Homo sapiens: one gene and its partners. The protein of the gene in region 3 purifies or fractionates together with the protein of the main gene of each other region. This does not show direct contact. Each region holds a gene or a part of one and is shown on either strand. Other genes may lie near its edges.

The links.
Region 1: the proteins of ACO1 (region 3) and BOLA3 purify together in Homo sapiens (co-immunoprecipitation; one large-scale study listed by IntAct). This does not show direct contact.
Region 2: the proteins of ACO1 (region 3) and CTPS1 fractionate together in Homo sapiens (co-fractionation; one large-scale study listed by BioGRID). This does not show direct contact.
Region 4: the proteins of ACO1 (region 3) and LYRM4 purify together in Homo sapiens (co-immunoprecipitation; one large-scale study listed by IntAct). This does not show direct contact.

Annotation. Positions count from the first base shown.
Region 1 is NC_000002.12:74,134,900-74,137,981, forward strand, and holds the end of BOLA3 (bolA-like protein 3), read right to left. Parts: intron 760-3,082; coding exon 694-759; coding exon of another isoform or gene 623-693; 3' UTR 501-622; downstream 1-500. UniProt on the Homo sapiens protein: Acts as a mitochondrial iron-sulfur (Fe-S) cluster assembly factor that facilitates (Fe-S) cluster insertion into a subset of mitochondrial proteins. Probably acts together with NFU1.
Region 2 is NC_000001.11:40,996,658-41,000,226, forward strand, and holds part of CTPS1 (CTP synthase 1), read left to right. Parts: intron 1-736; coding exon 737-869; intron 870-3,172; coding exon of another isoform or gene 3,173-3,175; exon of another isoform or gene 3,176-3,569. UniProt on the Homo sapiens protein: This enzyme is involved in the de novo synthesis of CTP, a precursor of DNA, RNA and phospholipids. Catalyzes the ATP-dependent amination of UTP to CTP with either L-glutamine or ammonia as a source of nitrogen.
Region 3 is NC_000009.12:32,383,200-32,387,457, forward strand, and holds the start of ACO1 (cytoplasmic aconitate hydratase), read left to right. Parts: upstream 1-1,443; 5' UTR 1,444-1,536; intron 1,537-3,171; exon of another isoform or gene 3,172-3,243; intron 3,244-4,258. UniProt on the Homo sapiens protein: Bifunctional iron sensor that switches between 2 activities depending on iron availability. Iron deprivation, promotes its mRNA binding activity through which it regulates the expression of genes involved in iron uptake, sequestration and utilization.
Region 4 is NC_000006.12:5,107,883-5,110,983, reverse strand, and holds the end of LYRM4 (LYR motif-containing protein 4), read left to right. Parts: intron 1-1,492; coding exon 1,493-1,561; 3' UTR 1,562-2,565; downstream 2,566-3,101.

The DNA of each region.
Region 1 (3,082 bases), on a different chromosome or scaffold from region 3:
GCTCCTCGGTGTGACTTGCTCCCAAGTTCAGGGCAGGTCCATCTGATTGGCTGAGTCTGGAATATCTGCCTGTGCCTCAGCTGTGAGGGAGGCAGGGAAAGTAAGCCTTTTCAGCTTCTGTCGTGGGAGGTGGGCTCTGCCTCCTACCAAGAATCAAAGGGTGGAGGATCTTCAAACACAGGAAAAGAACCCGGATCCTGGCACCCCCAAATTTTCAGAGTCCATTTCAGAGCATAAGAAATTGAGGGTCCAAGATCATTCATGTAAGAAGTTTAGAGGGGGAAGAAAAGAATGATAAACGAAAAGAACAGCAATAGTAAAGGATCTTTTCTTTGTTTCAGTAAGATGAAGAGGCCTGAGCAGTTTCGTGGAGGGGAAGAAACAGGAAAACCTCTTCAAAAGACAAAAAGCTGGCACTGCATTCTCTCTCTGTAGCAGGACAGAACTGTCTAAAGACAAGACCCCTTTGGCCAAAATAAAGGAACCTGAAACATTACTAATGACCCTTCAAAAGCTTCAGTTGTTTGTTTCCTTTAATTAACATCTAAATAGATTATACATCTTCTATAATTATAATATGGAAATGTATATGAGCAAAATATATAAATTTTTTGGTGACTGCTTAGGGAAGAATGATGTCAGTGAAGTTCATCCAAGGTCTTAAGCAGCAGCATCTATGCAGCCAGGGCGTGGTCAGCGTTTGGGGACAGAGGTAAATATCCGCAATCCATGCATCTCTTTGATTTCTTCTTTTAGTGCCTAAGTAAGAAAACAGCATCATCAGTTTTTGTGTATTTGACGTTGATTACAGTAATTCTCTGAGAGTATTTTTATACAGCTCTGCATCTGAAGGAGACTTTGTATGTGCTTTGTTTAAGCAATTTTTCCTTTTTTTGAAAAACAATTTTTTTTAAATCAATAATATCTAACATGATTTAAAGATTCAAAGGTACAAAAAGGCATTCAGGGAAGTCTCCCTCCTATACCTGTCCATCTCCCCAGTTTCCACCCTTGTTCCCAAAAGAACTGTTGTTAGTTTCTTGTGTATCTTTTTTTTTTTTTTTTTTTAAGTCATGGTCTCGCTCTAGCGCCGAAGTTGGAGTGCAGTGGCGCGATATCGGCTTACTGCAAACTCCACCTCCTGGGCTCAAACAATCTTCCTGCTTCAGCCTCCCTAGTAGCTGGGACTACAGGCACATGCCACCATGCCTGGCTAATTTTTTTATTTTTTGTAGAGGCAGGGTCTCACTATATTGCCTAGGCTGGTCTTGAACTCCTGGACTGGAGCAATCTGCCTGTCTTGGCTTCCCAAAGTGCCGGAATTACAAGCGTGAGCCACTGCACCTGGCCAGTTTCTTGTGTATCTTTACAGGGACTTAAAAATGCATATTCACCAGGCATATTCAAGCTAATATATTTCACCCCATGACCTTTTAAAACGCAAATGGTTAAAATTTCAAACACATTACACCAAGCTTGTCCAACCCACGGCCCATGACAGCTTTGAATGTGGCCTAATATAAATTCGTAAACTTTCATAAAACATTTTGAGATTTTTTTTGAAATTTTTTTTAAAGCTCATCAGCTATCATTAGTGTTAGTATATTTTATGTGTGGCCCAAGAGAATTCTTCTTCCATTGTGGCCCAAGGAAGCCAAAGGACTGGACACCCCTGCTCTACACTTTGCTCTTCCCCCAAACATCTATCTTGGAGATCTTTCTATGTTAGGCATATATGGGTGTCCTGATTCTTTTTTGCATCAGCATAGTATTCCATTATATGAATGCATTATAACTTTTCAACCTGTCCCCTAGCGAACTTTTAGGCTGTTTCCTGTGTTTTGTTATTTCGAGCATCAAGCATTCTTTAAAATGAGCAGTTCTTTAAAATCATACCAATTAGCACAAATTCCCCAATGGTCAGAGCAGGAAATAAAGTTTCAAAGGAATTATGGGACTTGTTTTAAGGCTACAAATGGTGTCAGAGCCCAAATCTGAAGGAACTACCAGAGTCAAATAGATATTTGGCCCCTGTAGTGCTGGGAGAAAGTGAGGTTACAGAATCAGAGTGGGGCTTGGACCGCTCAAGTTTATAATCAGTACAGAGGAAGAAATAAGGTCCTTTTATACTAGGCCAAAATCTGATAATCATACTAGAGTGGACATTTTTCTTTTCTAGTCTCTTTAGTGATCTCCTTCTCTTGGGGAATAATTCCTTTTCCACTCTATTGTATAATTCTGGTGGAACCACCAATTGGTCTGATATTGAGGTCATTATGTGCCACTGGCCCAGCCTATGATTGGACCGAGGTGGCACATGACCCAAATTGGGCCACTTAGAATCTCCCTTGGGATTTCTGAGAGTGGAGCCTTGTTTCTTGGGCCAACATGCTATGAAATTAATTGGAGGTGGCCATGGACTGTGTTTCCCACCAAGGAGAGAAAGCCCATCTTTAGCAGGAGAAAAGGAGACCAACACAGGGAAAGAAGCTGAAAGCTCAGAGAGAGAGAGGAATCTAGATATGCCAGAAACCAGATAATTTTGTTACATGGGCCAATTAATTCCCTTTGTTTGCTTATGCTAATTTTAATTTGGTCTCTGTCTCTTACAATATAAAGAATCCTAATATATGTGGTCAGGTTTATAGATCCTTAGACACAATCTAGTCCCATCCCCTTATTTAATTAAAAAAAAAAAATAGAGTCTACTCCTTGTCCAAAGTCAGCAAACAAGCGAGTAATGGAATCAGGATATGAACCCAGGTATCCTGAGGTCCTGGCCATACCTGGTTTCCATCATGTTCCTGACTTGCCCTGATCCGGGAGCTCCTGTTGTGTTGGGGGACAATGAGCTGCCCCACTTGGCCTACACTGCACACCCTCCAGCTCCACAATCAAGTGCAGGGCCCTCAACTCTGCGGACAGGCAGAAATGTCCCTGGAAAAAGCCTCATATAATCACTGGGCGAAGGTCCCTGGGCCACTTGCTCTCTGCAGGCGTGGAATGCTCCCTAGAGACTGTGTCTGTGCCTGGACCACAACCAGCCTCTCCTCCTTACATCCACCTTGGCTGGGTGAGGGCC
Region 2 (3,569 bases), on a different chromosome or scaffold from region 3:
CATACTCATTCCGTTGCTCTGTGAGAATCATTTTTCATTTCAACATTTTCCTTTCAGTCTTTGTCTGCTTACATATAGCTATCAGAATGGCAGTTTTATCATCCTTTTTCATAAAACATTATAAGCATTTTGCTCTGTTATTATATTTTACAATGAAAACTTTTAATGAGTGTGGACTTTTCTATTTTGTGAATGTCCCATAATTTGTTTGACACTTGCCTTCACCCCATTAATTCTTGTGAATTGTCTATGTCTGTTATTTTTTTTGGTCTTTGGTATGAAAAAAATTTTTTGTAGGCAAATTTGTGTGAGACGTTGAAACTCTTTGTAAGTTTCAAAACAAAAACAAAAAAAAAATTTTTCTTTACAAAGCCTGCCATGTTGATCTGAAAATTACTTCCTCTTTACTGGTCTGTACACAGAACTCAGATAATAGCTATTCCCGTTATATTCTTCCCAGGTGTGTTTTTGTTGTTTTTTGTGGGGGTTTTTTGAGGCAGGGTCTCACACTGTTGCCCAGGCTGTAGTGCAGTGGTGCAGTCAGCTCACTGTAACCTCCAACTCCTGGGCTCAAGATCCCCCCGCCTCAGCCTTTCAAAGTGCTGGGATTATAGGATTATGGGCGTGAGCTCATCCTGGCCAGACGTGGTTTTTTTTCCCTTGAAATAGCTATTTTGGTCTCATGATAGCGTGTACCTTCTGAGTAATTGGGTTTTTCTTGACGTTTATTTGATAGATATGATCGCTTGCTGGAGACCTGCTCTATTGCCCTTGTGGGCAAATACACGAAGTTCTCAGACTCCTATGCCTCTGTCATTAAGGCTCTGGAGCATTCTGCACTGGCCATCAACCACAAATTGGAAATCAAGGTAAGGAGGGTGGCACAGGTACAGCCAAAGGATGAGCAGGGAAGCAGTCTGTAGTCTCGTAGGTGCTGTGTCATATCTGCTTTCTGTTTGGAGCTCAGAATTACTTTTTAAGGAATTACTTTTTAAGGATTAAAAAGATTTGTGGTTGCTTCGTGGCTTTGAGAAGACAGTAGAGCATTTTCAGGAATTAATGAAGGGGAGAGATGGCTAGAGGAGAGGGTGAGAGAGACTTGAGTTCTTGGCTATGACTATCAGGTAACCAAATAAAATGCCCTGTGGAAATGGGGACCACTGATGGACCACAGGCATGCTGCACAGTTGATAGCTGGAGGCTCTTGGAGACTTTGTTGGCATGTGGGCTGCCTTTCCTAACCTGTGCTTATCACTTATTGCAGAGTGGGAATGACAGTATTGACCTCACGGAGCTGTGAGGTTTCTCTGGGATGCAGGGCAGGCACTCAGTAAATGGTAGTTACTGTGTTCTGGTCTGTGCCATGGCGGGCAGCAGCTGAGCTGGTGGAATGGTGGGGCATGGCCCTGCTTGTCTGTGGGTGGCAGTAGAGTGTCATGGTTAAGAGCATGGATGCCGTGGCTAGGCGCGTTGGCTCATGCCTGTAATCCCAGCACTTTGGGAGGCCGAGGTGGGCAGATCACGAGGTCAGGAGATTGAGACCGTTCTGGCTAACACGGTGAAACCCTGTCTCTACTTACAATACAAAACATTAGCCAGGCATGGTGGCATGTGCCTGTAGTCCTAGCTACTTGGGAGGCTGAGGCAGGAGAATTGCTTGAACCTGGGAGGTGGAGGTTGCAGTGAGCCGAGATTGCACCTCTGCACTCCAGCCTGGGCAACAGAGTGAGACTCTGTCTAAAAAAAAAAAAAAAAAAAAAAAAAACATGGATGCCTGAGCCCGGTGACCAGGGCTCAGATTCTAGCTCTGTCATCTACAAGCGGTGAGACCTAGACAACTTACTTAACCCTCTTTGTGCCTCAGTTTCCACATTGTTAAAAAGGGATGGTGATGGTGCCTTCCTCCTAGGGTTGTTGTAAGAAGTTCATGAATACAAAGTGCTGAGAATTATGCCTGGCATATGGTAAGCACTATGTCAGCTGTCGTTAAACCCTCCCTTCTGCCTGTCCCCTTTATTCCTTTTCTTCCTGGCCCATCAGCTGAAGCTTTTCAGGAAGAGATGAAGGTCAGAGGTAAAGTTGGGGCTCAGTGCTGAGGTTGTTAAACAGGCCCCATGTAGCTGTCCCCACATTGGGGTTTGCTTTCTACTTCCCAGGTGTTTCTCAGCGTGAGAGTTTAGTTTGCTTTGTGCTGCTGGACAGGTTCCTGCAGAATGGCCTGTTGTACGAGTTTTAAGAATTTAAATCCCATTACACAGCCCTGACTTCTTATTTGCTAGTTCTTTCCATCATTCATTTATTTTATCCACTTGGAGTTAGTCTGTGGCTGCCATGTGTTTGTCAGGTGGCAGAGGATGAGAGATGGATGAAAAGGCAACGGTCTCCGCCTTTAAGGAATATTGAGTCTCTTAGGAAGGAAGGAGCACATAGGAGAGGCTGAACCTGCTGTGGCAGACACATGAGGAAGGCAGACTTCCTCATGGAGGGACACCAGGTTGGGTTGGGTAGGATGGAGAAGGCTCGGAAGGGGCATTCCTGTTAGAATAGATAGAGCACGTCCAAGGGCTTGGAGATGTGGAGCAGTTGGAAACACTGTGGATGGAAATTGTGAATTGGAGGCTGTCTGGAGACAGGCTGGTGAGGGCCTGCCCACAATTCCATGAACTGGGCCAAATCTGGGTCTTACCCTGAGGTTCAGGAAACTAACTGCAGGGTTTAGGTAGGAGATTGTAGAAAAGTGGTGAACACCCTAATTTAAAAAGTGGGCACGAGATTTGAACAGACACTTCCAAAAAAAGATGTAGGTGATAAACACGAAAAGGTGCTCAACACCTCTAGTTAGGGAAATCAGTGCAGATGAAGTCACAATGAGATAGTGACACAAACCCCCTAGAGCGGCTGAGTGTTAGAGAGGCTGTGGAGCTCTTACCTTGCTGCCGGGAGTGTAAAATGGCACCACCACACTAGAAAACAGTCTGGTAGTTTCTTATCAAGGTAGAGACGTGTGATCCAATAAGTCCATTCCCAGATACTCACTTGAGAGACTTGAAAACGTCCACAAAAAAAGATTTTTATTCAAATGGACAAATTATTCGTAATAGCTGAAATCTCGAAACAACCCAAATATTTATAGCCTGTCAATGGATCAATTTGTAATGGTTTATTTATATAGTAGAAACCACTCAGCAATGAAAAGGAAGAAACCAGGCTGAACACTGACTGGCTCAAGCCCATAATCCCAACACTTAGGGAGGCTCTGCTGTGGGAGGATCGCCTAAGACCAGTAGTTCGAGAGCAGCCTGGTCAACATAGCGAGACCCCCGTCTCTGCAAAAAAAAGTTAAAAAAGAAAAGGAACAAACAACTGATAAACACAGCAACATGGATGAACTTCAAAAACACTAAGCAAAAGAAGCCAGACACAAAAGGTTATATACTATTTGGCTCCATTTATATGATGTTCTATAAGAGGCAAAACGAATCTGTGATGATAGAAATTGGATCTGAGGTTGTTTGGGGTAGGAGGTAGAGGGGCACATTCTGGGAAGATGGTAACTTATGTTTTGTTTT
Region 3 (4,258 bases):
CTCAATTCCCTTCATAGCTCTGATTTGATTGTTTTCTGCGAAGGATTCTCAGTTACACGGATGTTATCATTGAACATTAGATACTTTGCTTTCCGAATGGCTGCCTCATTAAGAATCGCAATTTAGCTGGATGTGTCCTCATCGGACTTCCCCAGCCTTCTACTCACTCTCACCTTGCCCCTACTCTCCCTACCTCCCAAGGGGACTGGAGCATGATTTTTCAGGGATTGTGGTGCACCTCTGCCATATGGTGGACATTCAAAGAAAATTTAATTACTAATGTGAATGGAAAGGATTTAGGAAGTGGGTGGGAAAACAGTCTCCTCTCATATTGGAAATACAGTTACTTCCCCTTTCAAAATAAATATAAGTATTTATATTTCAAAGTTAAATATAACTAGACGATAGTTGTACCCTATAGTGCAGTATGACAGGGAAGGTGTAGGCTTTGGTGTCAAACCAACCTAAGGACTGAGTCTCAGCTGTTGCGCATTGCACACCTGCAAAGACGGGTAATATTCTTTACTTGTAAGGTGGTTGGAAGAGCTGAACTGAATAACGTGGAAAGAGTCGATCACAGGGCTTTGTGCAGAATAGGAGGGCAGTATAAAGTAGCAGGGGGGCTATTAGTACTGGCTATTGTTTACTCATCCTATAAGCTGCTTATTCAGAAAACTACAGTAACTTTCCAAATAATTTGGGCAGGAAAACCTCACCACCTTTCATCTAGAAAGATCTAATCACTTCTTTGAACGCCATTCACCCAAGAGGGCACAACTCCTACCAACATGAAAAGCAGATCTTGTGAAAGCCCACTTGCTGCCATCTCCCAGCCATTTCTCCGACTTCAGACCGGTGAACATCGTGCATTAGAAAGTGTTGTTACATGTCCAAGGAAATCTACATATAGAACTTTTGCCACGGAAATGCTGAAGTCCTATTCTGACAGCGTGACTCCGATGTCCACTTGGCAGGCTTTGCGCAAAGAATTAAGGCGAGGGTGGAGAGGGTGGGTAGGGTGGGGACGGACAAAGTGAGAAGGGAGGCGGGCCAAGTGACCACACGTACATGAAGCCTCTCCAGTTATGGCCAAATCATTTTTTAAAAATAATTCCATTTCTTCCCCACCCTTTGGTCACTTCCTAACGCCGGCTGGGGAGTCACATGCTAAGCTCCAAAGTGAGCAACAGACACCCTCGTCCCAGGTCCCATGCTGGCAGAAGCGGACCCGGGCCGAGGGATCAGCCCTCCCACTTCCAGCGGAGGAGCCCTTCGCAACCCTAGCCTCCAGCCCGGGGCGAAGTCCTCCAGGCCCGCGGGGGCGCCCGCAGGCTCCGCCCCTTCTTCGGCTAGCTGCCCGTCCGTCCCGCCCCTGCTCCGCCCTTCCCGCCCCTGCTCCGCCCATCGCGCGGCGGCCCCGGGGGCGAGAGGGGGCGGAGCGTGGAGGCGGCAGCTGGAACCGCGCAGCGCACGGGAACGCGTCCCGCTGCTTGGGTCAGGTTCGCCGGTCGCGGGAGCCCCGCCGTGCAGTCGGAGGTGAGTACCGACGCGGCCCGACCCACGTCCCCAGGCGGGAGCGCCGTCCACCCTGTATCCCTCGAGAGTCGGTGCGGGCCTTTACCGAGGTGCCCGAGGCAGTGGCGGCACGGGGGACACGGAGGCGAGCTTGGGGAGGCTGAGAGGAGAATCGGGGACGTGTTTCTGGCGACTGACGTCTCCACCCTGTCCCCAGTCTATGTCATGCCGGGGAGAGAAACCAGGGATTGGAAGTGGCTTTCCTAGACCCTTCTTAGCCTTGGCTGTGCGTGCTGTCCTGAAAGTCCTTGCCTAGGGTGTGCGGCCAGTCCTGGGAGTCCTAACCCCGAGGGTGTGAGGCCCGCACTGGGAGTCCTCGCCCAGGCCCGGCTGGCTGGATAGGGAAACCCTTGCTAAAGTTGTGCGGGCAGATCCGGGAATCCACTCCAAGGGGTAAAGGGAAAATGGGATGAGGGGGAAGAGACCCTTCGTGGGAGGCTTGAACACAGAGCCCACCATGATAGATTCAGAGATCTAGAAAGGAGCTTGGGCTGCAGTTATGACCAAGTCATTTTTTTCTAGATTCAGCTAGCACATCATAATGGCATCTTCCTTCTTGCAACACATGTAACTCTCTTCCCTGGGGGACAACCTCTAGGACAGAAGTCCCCAAACTTTTCTGGTACTCAGTACTCCTTTACACTCTTAAAAATTAGTATCTTAAGGAGCTTTTATGTGTGTTATATCTATCCATATTTATAATATGTAAGTAAGACTGAGAAATTTGTACTATAATAATTCATTTAAAAAGAATAGTGAACTAATTATATCTTAACATTGCCTATTTTTATGAAAAAGAACTATATTTCCCAAAACAGAAAATGATTGAGAAGAGTGGCATTGTTTTACATTTTTGCAAATCTCTTTGATGTCAAGCGTAATTGAAGACAGCTGGATTCTGATAGCTGCTTCTGCAGTCTGTTGCAATATCACATATCATGTAGCCTCTTGAGACCTCCACTGTATACTCCTGAAAATGTGTGAATGAAAAAAAGCAAGTAACATTTTATTACTAGGAAAATGGTTTTGACTTTGGAGATCCCTAGGAGTTCTCTGCACCACACTTTGAGGATGCTGGTGTAGGAAATGCTTCAGAGGCTTCATTCATTGGGCCTGCTTCTTGTTTGTGATCCTTCCTCTGATTGGGAACACACACCACCTCATGCCATGGACAGTATTAACCTCTGGTATCTGGAACCAAGTTTGATCTCACTTTGGAAACCATGTACTAGGTCCCCACGTGAGGCTGTGATGAACCTTGCCAGCCTCCTGAAAAGTCAGCAAGGCTTCGCACATGCCTTTGGTTGTCTCTGTGCTTGCAGAGCTGACCTGTCTGTGCATCAGGATTACAACAGTGATGTGGCAAACAGGACCTGTAGGCTCACAAAAGTGCCAGTGGGGAGACCATGCCAAGTGTGTAGGGGTTCCTGTGAGAGTTACCAAGTAGTCAGGAAGTTATTTCCAAAAGAACAAGGAGGCATGCTTTTGCCTTCCCTTGCACGTGTTCATTTCTGTTTGCAGTTGCATGGTTATTAGCCTTGAGTTTATTGGAATAATGATTTCCAGTCTTGACGTTCTTTCACTTTCCACTTTCAGAGGGTGTCACTCTGAGTGGTGCTTCCTCAGCCCCTGTCAAAAAGCAGTTTCCACCATCCTGGAGTGTGGTAGGTGAGGTCCTTCACGGGACTCTTTCCTTAGCTTCGTGCCTTGTCAGAACAAGTTCAAGACAGATGTTATGTGTATATATTTGGGAGGAAGAAATTTTCTAACTCCATCCTCCCTTTTGTTCCTTCATCCATAGAGCCTCTTGTGCTCTGATGGATCAGTTTAAATGCTACAGCCGATACTTGAGAAATGTTGCATGCACATGAGCGTGTTGTGTGTGTTGCACAGTCCACAGGTGAGGAGGAGGAGAAGTCCACAGGAGAAGGAAATGGGATCTAAACTCTGAGCACCTGCTGTGTTCTTTGTATTAAAAAATTCCACTTTGATGGTGGGGTCTCATTCCTTCATTCTTTCAGTAGATTTTTATTGGCCACCTATTTCTCATGTGTCCAGTTATGTGCGGGATGCCAGGAAAGTAGTGAGCACAAAAGATGCAGTCCCTGTCTTTCTGGCAATTATGGTCTGATAGCTTTGATAACTGCTGGTTAATTGAGATAGTCTATTATATAGTCAGAGTGTGTACATGAAAGCTGGTCCTGTGTGAAGAGCAGTACCCCCTACCTAAAGTGTGCTTCAAAGGCATGTGCTGAAGAAACCAGTCCCACACTGTGAAGATGATGATAAAAACCAACGTGTATCACCACGTGCCTGGCAAAGAACTTCCTTTGCCTTCTTTCCCCCACTCTTCCTTCTACATAGGAAGTAATTTCCTGTGAGGCAGCCAGATTCACAGGGAAATTACCTCCAACCTGGTGCCAGTCACTGGGCCAGCCTCGGGTTAAGACACTTTCTCTGGGTCTCAGTGTCTTTGACTTTAAAATGAGGAGTTAGGCCATTGATAGTAAGTGTCCCAAGGAGCCAGTGGTTTCAGAGCTGGTTTATACTAGCATTTGTGCATATCTCTTCCTAACTCCGTGTTCAGTGGCAACACATTTTTTAGATTGAAATAAGCCATGGTGGGAATAATAACACCATGGAAATTGGCAAATGCTACATCAGAGCTTTTTTTTCCTCTTGG
Region 4 (3,101 bases), on a different chromosome or scaffold from region 3:
TGTACCGTAGCCCCTGAGAAAACCAGTGCGGCTCCTCACAGCCCTCAAGATGATTTCCGACCTTGCCACCTAAAGTGTGGCCCGTGGACCAGCAGCATCAGCATTACCTGCAGGTTGCGAGAAACGCAGCACCCCAGACCCTCCCCATCCACTTGCGTCCAAAGTCTTCTCTATATTAATGAGAGGAAAGGACGACTGAAGACACAGTAGCAAAGCTCATCACTGTGACTTGTTAGGAGCACTCATTCTCTACACCCCCTTCCCATAACTCCTACCTACCTCTTTTGGTTTTTAATTAGGACATTCACTTGCATTTAAAAATACCTGCAAGATCCCCCCATCCCCCATATCTCCACTGTCTACTTCTCGTTCTTCTTAGATGACGTGCTGCTCTCGCCTCTTCCTTCGCTTTCTCTTGCACCGCAACACTTAGTTATTATCCATGCCACGGACCTTCAAGATACCTCTGTGCAAGGGCAGACTGAAGACCGAGCAAATGGCATGGAAAACAGGACACCTCAGATGGACGGCGCGGCGGTCCTTGGTGACAGAGCACTGCTCTTTAACACATGCTGTAGTAATGACATGATCGCCTTCTGTCCGGGGCCTTCACTTCGAAATAGAGCACTAAGATCGGGGAGGAAAACCATGAGGATGTTGACCCCTGGCTGCTCTGTTTGCTTAAACAGCAGTTACTCACCCCGAATTACCCATAGATAGTGACCAACTGGTCTGAAATCCAGATAGAGTTGCTAATGATCAGCCCTTCCTTCACCCATTCCACTTGTTCTTAAAAATGTATCACTCAGGAAATGCTTTACAGAAAAACTGTGGCAAGACCCTTTGTTGCAGAGGAAAGACCTGCTCTAGCCCCAGAGGATGGCTCCAGCATCCACCTGGGACAGTGGAAACATTGGGCATTAAGACACTTAATAAAAAGGACACTTTAAAAAGAAGGGGGCAGGAAAGATAGAAGGCAGGAGGTGCAGGCACTCAGACAACTGCCCTCGACCCCACCCGGGATGGGCCACGGACAGGTGTCTGCATTGCCCTGAATGCAGCGCTTTTCCTACCCCAGCATAGACGGCGCCCATTTCTGCACTGTTCTAAAACCCCTTCCCTATGCGAGAATCAGTTCTAAGGGAAGGAAGCCCTCTTAGGAGAGGAGGTACTGGGCACACATCTGACAGCTCTGCCACCAGCAGGCAGGCGTCACCCAGCTCAGCACAGCCCCGAGTCCCAGGCTGCAGCCTCCTGTGCTGTTTCAGAGGGGAGGAATGGGTGTGTGGATCTCTGTAACTTCTCACAGTGAGGGAAACGGGGGTTGGATGGTGCTCTAGTGGCCGGCTTTGCCCCGCAGTGCAGTTGCCGGAAGGGAGCAGCCCTGGGATGGCCGACGTTTGTATTAGAAATGTTAGGAAATGTTCCTTCTGGCCTTTCCCAGGGGCTAGAGGGCCACGGTTCCTGACCTGTGTCCTTTCTTTGCCTTCAGGTCCACATTGGCCAACTGTATTCAACTGACAAGCTGATCATTGAGAATCGAGACATGCCCAGGACCTAGCAAGCCGGGGACCAGCCACCAGTGGCGGCCAGGGACCACCTTCAGCATCCACTCTCTGTTTGAGATGGGGGCTCCCAAAACCAGCTTACAATAGCCTTTTGCGCTGCCTGTCCTGTGGGAGCTGATAAACCAAGTCACATTTGCATTCTGTTGCAGGCTTAGTGAAAAAGGACTGCTGTCTTTCCTTGGTTCAAGTGTTAGAATGGAGAGCTGGAGTTCGTTCAGAATAGTGCTGTGTGTTACCACGTCTCCCCTGCACCCCATTCCTACCTTGTAGCTCATGACCATTGTGTATAGCATTTCTACACTTTGTTTCTTGGTCCTTGGCAATAAAAAGAATGATCTCCCTGAGCCTTTGACCCCAGATAAACCCCTCCCAATTAATGCATTTTCATTTCCTACTGATACAAGGCCTGGAGAGGGCTGTTGGGGGCCCTCAGGGAGGGTTCAACTCTGAGACGAGAACTGCCTTGGTGAAGGCAAGTTCAAGCACCACTTGAGACTGGGGGCAGCATGGAGTAGGGCAGGGCTACGGGGATACACGGTGCACCCTGCAACTTATACCTGAGCCCAGTACAACAAAGGTGACGGGTGTGTAGGTACACACCCAGAGATGGAGCACTGCAGATCAGCAACCTCAGCCCCACCTGGGAATTTGCTGGAAATGCAGGCTCAAGCCCCTCCCCACACCTGGTGAATGAGAGAGCCCCAGCCTGACCCAAGCCCAGGGCGACTCCCATACCCTGAAGCCTGGGGCATGCTGGGCAGCACCGGTGCCCAAATCTGGCTGGTGGACAGAAGCACCTGGAGAGTTGGAGAGCTTTTTAAAAAGACATCTCTCAGCACTTCCCTCTCTGCAGATTCTGACTCAGTAAGTGAGGGGTGAGGCACAGTCATTTTTCTCTATTCTGAAGCTCTCCCACTGTTTTCAATGTTTAACCAACTGGGGACCCCTGCTCTTTAAGTATATTACAGGTAATAAAGATATTGTTTGTATGCTTTTATTCTTGGAAACAGATTCATTCCAAACATAGAAAGAACATATTAAATAACTTGCTTGTCATCTGGGGAGTTTACGAGGGACCAGACCTGGCAGAGCGGTTTCTTGTTTCCCTTTGCATACAGTGCTCAGTGGATTTGGTATCTGTGGGTTAAGGTTTGGAACAGGCTCCTATAAATAGCACCGGTCCTGGAATAGCTGCAGCACTGTCACCCCCTCATTTTAACTCCGACGGTCATGGGAGTGAGTACGCACTGTCTGAGCCCGTGTTCTTCTCACCCTCATATGAGAACTCATGTCTTCCAGTCGCTTTTAGAGAGCATAGATTTGCTGCAATGATGCGTTCAAATAGATGTAACGTGTAGCCATTCTATTTGGCAGTACAACTTTTGATTTCAGGATAAAGTCTTTTTTTTTGAGATGGAGTCTCGCTCTGTCACCCAGGCTGGAGTGCAGCGGTGCGATCTTGGCTCACTGCAACCTCCACCTCCTGGGTTCAAGCCATTCTCCTGCCTCAGCCTCCCGAGTAGCTGGGATTAC